3 separate regions of the Homo sapiens genome follow, and all the other regions are linked to region 3. Evidence: fine-mapped expression QTL. A gene starts in region 3. Each other region holds a variant in brackets. All regions are shown on one strand. Distances are from middle to middle. Region 1 overlaps NEPRO-AS1 (NEPRO antisense RNA 1). Region 2 overlaps BOC (BOC cell adhesion associated, oncogene regulated). Region 3 holds the start of BOC (BOC cell adhesion associated, oncogene regulated).

Evidence for each region. PIP is the estimated chance that this variant, and not a neighbour inherited with it, causes the effect. A credible set is the group of variants that fine-mapping cannot tell apart.
Region 1: its variant is the best candidate, but not a certain one, in a credible set for the expression of BOC in sun-exposed skin (GTEx, PIP 0.66).
Region 2: its variant is the best candidate, but not a certain one, in a credible set for the expression of BOC in sun-exposed skin (GTEx, PIP 0.69).

What each region holds. Positions count from the first base shown.
Region 1 is chr3:113,137,778-113,142,018 of GRCh38, forward strand. All of the region lies in intron 1 of NEPRO-AS1 (NEPRO antisense RNA 1), which reads left to right. Among named protein-coding and RNA genes, the nearest start is that of LINC02044, 28 kb to the right of the region's middle. The variant C/G (reference allele first, on the strand shown) is at 1,734.
Region 2 is chr3:113,246,058-113,250,298 of GRCh38, forward strand. It overlaps BOC (BOC cell adhesion associated, oncogene regulated), which reads left to right. Exons shown (of 20, transcript NM_001378074.1): 3 at 3,665-3,842. The coding sequence starts at 3,746. Among named protein-coding and RNA genes, the nearest start is that of BOC, 37 kb to the left of the region's middle. The variant G/C (reference allele first, on the strand shown) is at 1,607.
Region 3 is chr3:113,209,695-113,213,935 of GRCh38, forward strand. It overlaps BOC (BOC cell adhesion associated, oncogene regulated), which reads left to right and starts at 1,863. Exons shown (of 20, transcript NM_001378074.1): 1 at 1,863-2,322. It overlaps LOC124909486, which reads right to left. Exons shown (of 2, transcript XM_047449436.1): 2 at 1-2,586. The coding sequence ends at 1,861. RefSeq lists an enhancer at 2,224-2,875.

The DNA.
Region 1 (4,241 bases), 72 kb before region 3:
ATAATTTCTGCTTTTAGTTTCTACTTTCTTTAGGTTTATTATTATCATTCAGTTCTTTTTATTAATTCTTTGAGTCAGATGTTACTTCTTTCATTATCAGTCTTTTTATTATTCTACATATGGAAGACTATGAATTTTCCTCTGAGCACTGCTTTAAATTGCACTCCTTAGGTTCTAGTATATAGTTATTTCTAAATTAGTTTTTGGCACAGAATTGGATTAATCATCATCCTTAATTTATGTTACACTCTCATCATTGGTAAATGCATAGCCATCTTTTGTTTAGTTCTTCCATTTTTTAACATAATTTTTAAAATATGGGCCCATCACCCAATGCGTCTTGACAATAAACTCCATCTACCTATATTGCCCCTCCCATTCCCTCCCTCTGCTTCTGTCCATACTACTCCTCCAACCACCAGAGATAAAGATCATGCTGAATTCTTTTTCATTTCCTTGCTTTCTTTTTCATATAGCTTCATAGCTTCTATCTTCTATCTTTCCTTAAAACATATTTTTATTTTAAATTTAAACATTTTCTTATTTTCTGAATATTAGGTTTGATTTTGATTTTCTTTATGATCCAAGAGTTGCTTTAAAAAGAGTTTTGGGGTTTTTTTCCCAGATATTAGAATATCTTGTTGTTTTATTATTTTGTTTTATTATTAAGATCGGGCTATATTACATCATGAACAGAAAATGCCTTCTGCACTATTTTTACATTTTGGAATTTCTTGGTGTTTTTCTTTGTGTTAAAATGTGATCACTTGGGATATGCCATAGGATGCTCTGTATCCACCTGTCTGTCTCTCCAATTTTGGGGCCAGTGATTGCCCTGTGGCCTCACTTCTCTGACAGATCTAAGAAGAGTTGCTGATTTTGTATTTTGTTTGGCTTTTTAAATTGTATATATTTAAGGTGTACAACATGATATTTTTATATAACTATACACGGTAAAATGCTTACTCCAGCCAAGCAAATTAACCCACCCATCATCTTCCATAGTTACTTCGTGTGTGTGTGTGTGTGTGTGTGTGTGTGTGTGTGTGTGTTAAGAGCACCTAAAATCTACTCTCTTGGCAAATTTTCAGTCTATGATAAGGTTGTATTTACTGTAGTCCTCATGCTGTATGTTAGATCTCTAGACTTACTAATCCTGCATAACTACAAATTTGTACCCTTTGACCTATTTCTCCCCATTTCCTACCCCTCCCATCCCCTGGTAACCATTGTTTTACTCTCTGTGCTTGGTTTCTTACTTATTATTAGAATGGAATGGTGACTTCTAAGTTCCTTATGTGTCAGACTGGAAACCAGGAGTCTTTACGTCAGTATTTAAAAATCAGTTTAGAGGTGATAAACAGTTCATCCTCTCCAAACATCTCTTAGACAAATCAGCATGGCTCTGAGGTGACAGTTAAGAACCAATTGACACAAGGAAGTTATGCAGGTTACCCAAGGCCATACAGCAGGCTAGAAACTGAGCGGGAATTCTATTTAGCACCTGAACTCCCAGCCTTGTGTGCAGACCACATTGTCTGTAAACAAACTAGCTCCAGCTAAACTAGATAAATATGCCTGAAAATAGTTACTTGTGGATGCCAAACTTGGCCTTTTATGCATAGTCAATAAGCAAAAGAATCCAAAAGTAAGTAGGGCCCTTTGCACACACATGATCATGAGAACCTAGCTCTGAGAGACCACGCCCCAAGGAGTGGAGGACCGGCCATCTT[C/G]GGTGGTGATCATAGTAATTATCCATTACATTTGGATGGCCTCCCTCAGATTTTGAAACACTTTCATGTGATTTATCTCAGAAGTTCTTGCCAGACATCCTAGGAGGCTGATATTTTTTGTTTTGGTTGGTGCTCCAAGGAGACCAGCAACTCAGCACTGGGAGCCTAACCTGCCCTAATGAGCATAAGGAAATGGGCGCAAACCCTGGTTTTTAGATAAACACAAGAAGTGATCTCTGGGGTCAGATTTAAGTGGGCGAGATAGACAGCATTACCTTGACAAGGGGCAAGGTAGAAACAGAGCACAGGTATGGGAACTGTGCACCTCTTGGTTACCAGTATATAGGAGGATCCAGTCTATGATAATCTAACCCCAAGGAGATACCACGACTTTATTATAATTTTTGCATCCTCTGTGTCTAGCTCAGAATGTGGCATGTAGAAAACATCCAGTAGATGCTTGAAGAATGAATGAATGAAGTATTTTCTGCACACCACCGCCAATGTATTACTCTCTGGGGTGAATAAATGTTTACTAACATCTATCAGGTTAAGGGTTAGATGCTTTCAAGTAGATTTCTTAACCTGGAAAACATCATGGTAAAGATAAAAGAGAGGGCCTGTGTTTTCTCTGTTTCTTACCATACCAAGTCTAGGTGCCTATTCCTGATTTTCAAAATTACCCATGGTTGGGCCCAATGCCTACCTCTATAGCCTTTCACCCCACCCACCACTCTCCTGGCGCTCTTACTGTTCATTCTGGCCTTTTCCACCCGTCCTGGTACACTTTTCTTTGTCTCCCTTTCTATCCCAGTCATTTTATTCCAACCTCTTCTATGGAGCCTTCCTTGACTATCTTGGCCCTCAGTGATCAACCATTCTTTTGAATTTTTTTAATCTGGAGAGTTGATATCCATATATTTTGCCCTCAGTTTTCTCCTATGCTATTGAGTTATTTTAGGTACATGTTATGTTTGACTAGTTGGATTATAAATTCTTTAAGAATACGGCTTGTGGCCAGGCGTGATGGCTCACGCCTGTAATCCCAGCACTTTGGGAGACTGAGGCAGGCAGATCACCTGAGGTCAGGAGTTCCAGACCCACCTGGCCAGCACGGTAAAACCCTGTCTCTACTAAAAGTACAAAAATTAGCCAGACATGGTGGTGGGCGCCTGTAATCCCAGCTACGCAGGAGGCTAAGGCAGGAGAATTGCTTGAACCTGGGATGTGGAGGTTGCAGTGAGCTGAGATCGTGCCACTGCACTCCAGCCTGGGTGACAGAGTGAGACTCCAGCAAAAAAAAAAAAAAGAATAGGGGTTGTATTTAGTAGAGAGCCTAGCATAGATCCAGGTACATCATGGGAGATCAATAAGTAGCTTTTCACTGATCAAATGTAAACACATTACTGGAGAAGCTACTTCATTGCTCGGAAACTTCCTGAAACATATGTAGTGTTAGGTATACAATATCCTTGCCCATGCTGAGGTGTTAAAAAAAAGTTCTTCTCAAAGCCAAATGAATCATACTCCTGGTTTCTTCCTGTCTCAGTCATCTTCCCCTTTCACTATTCAGCAGATTAACCTCCGCACAGGGCCTCTGGCCACACACTCTCAGTCTCCTCTGGCCTCCTGCACCATCAGTTCCCTCCAGTCCTCCAGACTCATCAGCTGCCATGATGCTGCCTCTGAGATTTTCCTGCTCACCTACTGCTGAACCACACACCCAACCCTCCTTTGCTACAGTGGTCAGCCAACAACATAGCCAAGAAATTATGGAAGTTTTGTAGAAATTAAACTAAGGCGATGAACAACAGTGGTTAAAAGTAGAAATAAAATTATGTCATTTTGGCAGTCTGCAGACTATCTACTAGAATCCTTCTTCCCCTTCTTCCTGGGCACAGAGCACAGCTATATTTTCTGGTCTTCCTTACAGTGAAGTAAAGCCATGTAACTAAATAACTAAATTCTTTCCAAAGATGTAAGTGGAAGTGTTGTATACCTTCAACAGGTCTGGGTCAATTATTCTGTGTTCTTCCACACTCTTTATGTGTGCTGGGTGACGTGGCCTTAAGGGTCTGTAGAGCCACAGGGTCTAAGAAGCCATGGTCCCTTAACTACCTTGTGAAAGAGAGCTGCGCTTCAGCCAGGAGCACCTCCCTTGAGCAATTATATGAGAAACAAACTTCTATTGTGTTCAAACCATTATACATTTGGCATGTATTTATGACAGCAATTCAGCCTACCCTAACTAGTACATCCATTAAGTGAATGAACAAAGGTACAACTGTTACTCCACCCTTACTTGACTCCAGAGAAGCATATAATTGAGAAGGAAAGAATATTTGCCTAATAACAAAAGGGAAGAAAGCCATAGGTGAATGTGAGTTATATTTGCATAAAATAAGATTGAGAAACTTTGTGCAATGAAGGTTCTTACAGCAAAGACCTGGGTTTTTCATTGTGAACTGTCTCATTGGAACTATTAATTATCCAATGGATAAAACAGAA
Region 2 (4,241 bases), 36 kb after region 3:
AGTTTCTCAGGATTGGTCTTAACCCCAGAGTGTGTTTTGTTGTTGTTGTTTTTGGAAAGTTTCAAAAACATCTGTTTGGAAGAGATTATTTCAGTGGAGAACATGTGTGTCAGCAGTTAAATGTTTCAGACCCATTTTCTTTCTTTTTTTGTGTGTGTCCAAATAACCCTTTAAACTGTCAAGTACCTAGGCCTCAATGAGGTGTCAAATGATTTTGATATTTTTTTCTTGATTTCTCTGCTTTGTCTCAGAAAATGACTAAGGAAAATAAGAAGGATCTTAGATATATTTTGCATTGCCAAGAAAAATAATAGGCCTTACTGTTGCCTTCACCCAACTTTGAAATTGTACTTTGTTCATTTCACAATGGGACAACGTTACACTGCAATTAGGTTCTCCAGCTTAAGCGTTACTTGCCTTTTTTCCCGAAACATTAAAATAAAGTTCTCAGGTAACTGAAATCTCTAGAATTATCTTTCTAAACCAAACTCACTAGGTAACTTGGTTCAAAAAGTAACTCACTTTCCCCAGATACTAAATAAAATGCATCATTTTATGTATTTATAATTTTATTTATTTATTTATAATCATCATCCAGTGACCAAGCCCCCCAACCTTCCCCAAACATAGCCATATTTTTTGGTCATAGTTCTGCTTTTACATGAATGAGACCCCACGCATCCTGTTTTGGGGTCCTTAAAATGGTACTTCTTACAACTGTGTTGTGGGGCTTAATGGGTTAACTCCTTTCTCCCTCTCTGGATACCTGCACCTTCTCACTCCCTCTCACTCCCAATTCTTTTCTCCTTGTTGTTTTTGAAAGCAGGATGGTGGCTGGCAGCAGCAACAGGATCTGTTTCCATTTTGAACCTTATAAATTACCGAGGGTGCAGAAGTAACAGGAATTGTTTGGCTGGTCCTCGTTAAGCAGGAGAGGGTCTGGGCTGAATTTCCTCAGTAAAATATTTGTTGCTGTTACAACCCAACACCTCCGTAGCCACCGTGTGTTCAGATAAGAAACAACCCTTCCATTCCTCTTTGTCTGCTTGTCCTCTTTTGCCCTTCATTACTTTATGTTCATTTTCTGTCTCCCTACCTCCCTTCTTCCCTTTCTTCCTCCCTCCCTTCCTTCCCTTCTTGGGGCATGGAAGGAACATTTGCTTTCAATTTCCTTAAGGGCCTGGGGAAATTGGGGCATGACTTGAACAAGCTAGTTCCCTAAAATCCCATAACTGGGAACTCATGCAATGATCTATATAAATACCTTATCTCATTGGGGAAAAGCAAATTAGAGAATTAAAGCAAGTATCTGGAAAATTGAGAGGAAACCAAAAGCTTACTTTTTGGTGTAAACTTTCCCTCTAGAAATCACTGTTAAAATGTCCCACTGTTCTACATCAACTCTGTTTGCTAAACACCCACTGGTTTCAGAGCCCTGATAGGAAAAAAAAAAAAAAAAAGGGAAAAAGGCTACTATTGTGATTAAAAAGCACAGAGTTTGGGAATCAGCCTAAACTGGGTTTCAATCCAGGCCTACTGTTATGTGATCCTGGGCAACTTCACTTCTGGAACTCAATTTTCTCTCCTGTAAAATGGGGATATAGTC[G/C]TCACCTTGCAGGGTTGATGAGAAGGTTAAAGGAAATACATTGTGTAAGAGCTTAGCGAGTTCCTGGAGTAGTGGCAGGCACCCCCAGCTTTCCACCACCACAGCCCCTCCCAATTGTACTCACATCCTTTGCAGCTTTCATGAATTTTACTTTGCCAATAATATGACCCTTTGATTTACTGGATTGTTTGAAAAAGAGCAAAAGCTCTCTCTCTACACCAACGGGAAATTATCTTAACTTGCCAGGAAATAACTTTTGAAAAACTTCTTTAAAAATGTTCTTTCAAATCCCTTTTAGAAAACATCCCCTTGTCCTATCCCAGAGTAGTGCTGAAGTCTTGTGAGTCCTCTGATGTCAAAGTCATGAGGCAAAGGGAGAAAATACAAACCATCGGGAAAGAACTCTTGGAAAACATTCTGAGCATCCACAGAATGCTAGGGGCTGGGGTCCTCCATCTGGTTTGGAGGGGTGCTCATTGGGCAGTGTGGATATGGCCCTCCTCACTCCCTCTGCAGCCAGGCAGAAAGCCAAAGGACCACAGGTCTTGGGGAAGGGAAAGGTTTAGGTTAATCCGAAGCACTTCCCAACACAGCAACAGTCCCCTGTGTCAGGCAAGTCGGGTGTCTCCTGTTTCTTACGGCAGTCTCTGCAGGCAGCCTGAACTCTAGGACTGGCCAGCACAACACATCTCTCAGTTGAGAAGCTTAACTACTTCTGAGTTTTAAATGGTGACTGTAAATCTTCGAGAGAGTCTCTGGTTAGGTAGATTGATCTAGAAGAGTTAACATTTTGAATGTATGTCACACTCCTAGAAATATACTATTAATATTGCCACAGGTGAATGATCCACCGTGCAGATCACTGGAATGTTGCCTTCAACGTTATCCGAACTCATTTCAATGCCTCCCTGCCTAATAAGGCTGTTGATACCCCATCCTTATTTGTTAATGTTCTATAAACCCATCAGTGAAAAGCACAGAAGCAAAATCTTTGTTTTGGCTGTGACAGAAGTGTGTGTGTGTGTTAGAATATACACTTGCCCATGTGATTTTGATAAATCTTGTAAGGACCATAGCTTAAGAAAGGCATAAAAAATTGTGCCTTCTGGAACAGGAGATGCTACTGTTCTAGGCAGAGAGGGTGACTGATAGCTGAGGTGTGTTGTCAGATGGCTGGAGGTGCAGTGTGGTCTGAGCCTCAAAGCAATGTTGTTCTGGGTGGAGATACAACTTGGGTAATCAAGAGTGTAGATTTTGTAGAGACGGAAAAGTTCAAAATTTTCTAGCACCGGGAGCAGAGAGAAGTGGGAGCTAGTGAGTGAAGCGAAAACAAGGCTCTGTGCCCTGAGAAAGTGAGGGGTCTTGGCTGGCTTATGACTTTGGGCTGTGTTTGTACCTGTGGGAGTAGATGTTATGGACAAGCTGAGGAGAGCAGGGTGATTGCAGGAATAAAAGGGAGTTTTCAGGGATCTAGGCATAGAGCTGGGGTGAGGAAAATCAGAGCAGGAAATATTTCATGAGTCACTGAGATGCTAGGATTCATTCACTTAGTAGCATTCCCTGCAAGGGCGTTCTGTATGCATCACACACACGGCACTGCTGTCCCACAATAGTCTGCACTAACCACATGGCAGGGCACATGGCTGTGACCAGCTGGCCTTTTGCAAGCAAATGGTAAGAATAATCTCATCTGTTCTAGCATCTGTGCCAGATAGTCACTGTCCTGTGCCATGGATATGGCTGCAGGCCTCAGCCTCTCTGTATCCTCTGCCCCTCCTCCTCGTTGCTGTCCATCCACTGGGCAAGACTCCAGCATTCTTACTACAATAAAATCACCTTCTAGCTAGAGAAAGAGCCCTAGGGGGCAACTTATAAGAAGCTTCTTTTAGATGAGAAATGGCACTATAGTGTTCTTTGGTCTTCCAGCAGCATGACCGGGTCTCTAGTTTGAATGTTGCCAACAGGGAACAAGGGACAAAGCCAAGCCCTGTGGCCACCACAGGTGCACCCCAGGCATCCTCATCATGGCCATTGCTCTCCCTTTCTCTCTTACAACAGAGTGTTGCCAGGGACGGCAGTATCTCTTTGTGTGACCCTGGCGGCTTATGGGACGTTGGCTTCAGACCTTTGTGATACACCATGCTGCGTGGGACGATGACGGCGTGGAGAGGAATGAGGCCTGAGGTCACACTGGCTTGCCTCCTCCTAGCCACAGCAGGCTGCTTTGCTGACTTGAGTGAGTGCTTTCCTTCCCTTTCCCTGCCCTTACAGTCAAATGGAAACATTCCGCATTCTACAATAACTCTTTAAAAAGGCCTTCTTTACCTGGATTTCAAAGAACACTTTATTCCCATTGGCCTTCAGGGACACAAGAACACAAGATGAGACATGATCACAACAACATCATATTGGTTATAGTTTGGTATTTGACTCATTTCAAAGCTATACCGGAGGAGGAGGAGAAGTAATAATAATAACTGCTTTTTATTGTGCACTTACTGTACAGTGTCACGGCAGGCAATTTACACATATCGTTTGCAAGACTCATGACAACCTTGTGAGACAATCAATATTAGCTTCATTTTACAGGTAAGAAACGGACACTTCACAAGGCTAGAGTCACATGGCTCAGAAG
Region 3 (4,241 bases):
GAACATGCCTAAGAATCCAGGCACAGAGCTGAAAGTACTCGATAAATCAAAAAGGAAATTGGCTTCTGCCTGAATGACTAAATACCGGAGAAAAAATAGTGCAAAATATGGAATAAAATACATTTATGTTTCCTTTGTAAAGGTCTTTTGGTTCAGATTCAATTAGAGTCCTATACTCAGTGTAAAGTATGTATGTTTACTGACAAGAAACAAGTTAATAAAAAACAAAACAGGGCCGGGTGAGGTGGCTCACGCCTGTAATTTTAGCACTTTGGGAGGCCAAGGTGGGCAGATCACTTGAGGCTAGGTGTTCAAGACCAGCCTGGACAACATGGTGAAACTCCGTCTCTACTAAAAATACAAAAATTAGCCGCGCATGGTGGCAGGTGCTTGTAATCCCAGCTGCTTGGGAGGCTGACACTGGAGAATCTCTCGAATTCAGGAGGCAGACTTTGCAGTGAGCCGAGATTGCACCACTACACTCTAGCCTGGGCGACAGAGTGAGACTCTGTCAAAAAACAAACAAACAAACAAACACACACACACACACACACACACACACACACACACACACACACACACACAAAACCCCCAGAGGCCCAGAAAAGTTAAGTGACTTTCCAAAGTCACAGTGGCTTCCTGACTCCCAGTGCAGCTGTCCAGCCACACAGGGAAGGCAGCACCCCCATTCACCCTACTACTAGCCTGGCTGTCTTATTTCCAGGACAGCTTCCTCACCAGCTTGGCACAAACTCCCAGTTCACTTTAAACAAATGGCTTAGCCCTGCTGGGACTTGGTTTTCTCAGCTGCAATGAAGATACGGAATGGATGACCGCTCACAACCTGTGCTTCATTCCTAAAAAATAAGAAGGGAATCCAATTTGCCACCAACTCAACATTTGCCTTCTCACTGCCCTGGAAAGGTAGTTTTTAAAACGTGGCCCCTGACCTGCAGCATCAGCATCACCTGGGAACCTATTTGAAATGCAAATTCCCAGGTCCACCTACTGAATCAGAAACTCTGGAGGTGGGGCCCAGCAAAGGGATTTAGCAAGCCTTCCAGGGAGTCCTGCTGCAGATCAAGTTTGAGAACCACAGCTCTGAAAGTTTTCTGACCAACACACACGCGCGCGTGCGCGTACACATACACACGCATAGGTAACTAACTTTTCCGTGGCCACTAGCACCCCCAACCCATGCCCCCAACCCCAGCCCCAGCTCTCCCTCCCCATTCCTCCCTGGCTCCATCCTGGGATGATGAATGGAGGTCAGGGCGCTGTCAATGGACGACGCGGCAAACCCTCCCCAACCGACCGAGGGGGTCGGGGGAGGCTGCGTTAAGGCTTCCCTGAGATTGGTTTCCTTATCATTTTCTCCACCGCCGCTGTCCCATTTTCTGATGAGTTTGCTTTTAATGATTTATCCAACAGTTTGTCTTGCAGAAGAAGAAGACCATTGAGAGGTGGGTGTCAGGAAAGTCTTGGAAGAGACTAGGCGAAAGGAGGGAAGGATTGTACATGGAAGAGCAAGGGTGCGAGGTGAAGCTAAAGAGAAAGTGAAGGCTTCAGGGGAGCCCCCTGGGTTCGGGGAAAAGGGAGAAGATGGTGCTTTTGGTATGGGAAAGCAAAAGAAGTTGGAGGAGAGCGCGGGTCTGAGGCACAGCAAAAAGTGGGTGTTAACGGGAAAACTGCCCTAGAGTTTGGGGGACTTTTTCCAGCTTCCTTTCCAAGACTTTTTCTTTGCTCCATTTTGCTCCTCCCCCTCCTCCCAGCCTCCTCCACTCCCTCCTCCTCCTCCTCCTCGCACGGTAATGGGAGGCTCCTAGGCAGGAGAAGCAAAAGAAGGAATTGTTTGCGAGTTCAGTCATCCAAAAAGCTTCTTCCATATGGAGGGACCGGGTGCGCTGGGCGCGGCGTCCCCTGCGTTGTCCTCCTGCTGCCGCCCCCGCGGCCGCCGCTTTCTGCCGCGGGGACCCTGAGCCCCGGCCCGCCGGTGTCAGCCGCCGCGCGCGCGCACAGACACACACACAGAGACACACAAACACACACAGAAAAGACACACACGCGCACACACGGCGCGCACACCCTCACGCCCGCCACAGCCACAACACGCCCGCACGCGCCCTCCCTCTCCGGCCCGCAACTTCTCGGTCCTCGGCTCCTTTGTTGCTCCAGCCGCGGCCGCTCGCCCGTGTTGTGTGTCCCCGGTGTCACCGAGCGTGTTGTGTGTCCGTGCGGCGCGGCGCTGTGTGGCTCCCTCGCGCCCACCACGCTGGCCCCCGGGCCCCGGCTCGCCCTTCCCAGGCGCCGGCTGCAGCAGAGGTGAGTCACGTCGCTGAAGTTTGTTTTCTTTTCATAAAAAGTTGTGTTTACTGTTGGTTCGGGGAGAGGAGGGGGCGGGAGGCGGCCGCAGGCCGAGGCAGCGCCAGCGAGTGGCTGCCGGGGGACGTGCCGGCGGCGGGAGCCGGGTCCCAGCGCTCGGCCGGGCGCCCGGGGCTGGGAGCTGCGGCCGAGGCTGGGCGCGCCGGGCGCCGGGCGAAGAAGTTGGGGCGAGGCGGGCAGCGGGGGTCCCGGGGGCTGCAGCCGCTACGGGGCCCAGGGGCGCCGCATCTCGTTCCCTGCCGCAGCGGTCTGGCCGGGCGATGGTGGTTTCGCCTCAGCGGTTCCCAGAAGCTTCTCGGGTGGAAGAAGGATCCAGCCAGCCTCCCAAACTTCCACCGAAGGTTGACACCAGCGCCCCGGCCCCATGCTCCAGGCCGTGGGGGGAACCCGAGGCGTGGCGGCAAATGCGTAGAGTCACTCAACACGCACTCGGCCTCTTTGGAGGGTGAGGGTTTCTCATAGTTGGCGTCTTCTAAAGGAAAAACACTAAAATGAGGAACTCAGCGGACCGGGAGCGACGCAGCTTGAGGGAAGCATCCCTAGCTGTTGGCGCAGAGGGGCGAGGCTGAAGCCGAGTGGCCCGAGGTGTCTGAGGGGCTGGGGCAAAGGTGAAAGAGGTGTGTGTGTGTGTGAGAGAGAGAGTTCGTGTGTGCGTGTACGTGTGTGCGCGCGCGTGTGTGCGTGTTCGCGCCAGCAGCGTCCTCCTGGGGTTTTTGTTGATGTAACTGTGAGAAGGTGTGGGAAATGAATCTCTGGAACCAGTGGGACGGGGCTGTGGGGAGGGCAGGGAACCCAGGAAGAATTTTCATGGGGGTGTTGAAGGGCCTGCTTGACTTTCAGGATGTTCAGTATTAATTTGCTTTTCCAGGTGATGGGAGAATGCTGAGGGATGAGAGAGGCAGGCAGACCTGAAGGAGTTAATGGAGCCTCGGGGATTTGTTTGGCAGAGTTTTGTTTTGGGGATGGGGGTGGCAGTGCCAGAGTTGCTTGGAACAGAGTTGTGCTCCTCCAGAGATGTGGCAGTAGAGCTAAGAATACCGAAACCACACACCAGCAATCCCAAACTGGCACTTTTTGGGTGTGGTGGGGTGTTCTGCTGCTCCCCTCATCCCTTCTCTGCAAGTTCAAATGGGTTCGCCTAAGTTTTTGACCCAGAGTTACCTCTTTGAGTGGACTGAGTGAAGATTATATTTTGATTTCAGGCCCTTGTGCCACCTGCAGATGCACTGTGCCCAGCACACATTTGTCACCTAGTTCTTTGTTGTCCAGAACTCGGTACACATTGACCATTGGATGAATGTCATTTTAAAACTTCAGTGTGCAGACATTTCTGATTTATTCCACGACTGGGTCTTAAACAGGCAGCCCAGCTCTGTGATGGTTTTTTTCATCCCTTTGGTTACAGCCAATAAATCAATCTTCGTTTTCTTAAGGGCAGCATGGAAAATATTAAACCACAGTCTTGGGCTGCTTGTGGGGGCTAGGATGCCCATACATCTGGGTGACCTGTTTTCTGAACTTAAAGTAAATCTGAGGCAAGAGGTTAGCCATTTTGAGGTGTGTAACAGGTTTCCCAGAAACATTTCTGAGGTCTTATAATTGGTACTTTTTAATGGTCTCATAATTGAGACCCAGAAGCTTCTCGTGGTGATCTGAAAGCACCTTGGGGTCAGTGGGACAGAGGCCGGGCAGAAACAGCAGTAGAGTTATTATTTTCCTGCTATGAGTTTTTCAAATGAGTTTATGCAAAGAGGTAAAATGAAAGAAAGAAGAGTTGCCTCATTGGGCCACTTTGCTGACACTGTCCTCCCCTGTATAGATTTGTCACTCAGAATTTGGGCCTTGAGGAGGCTGGAGGG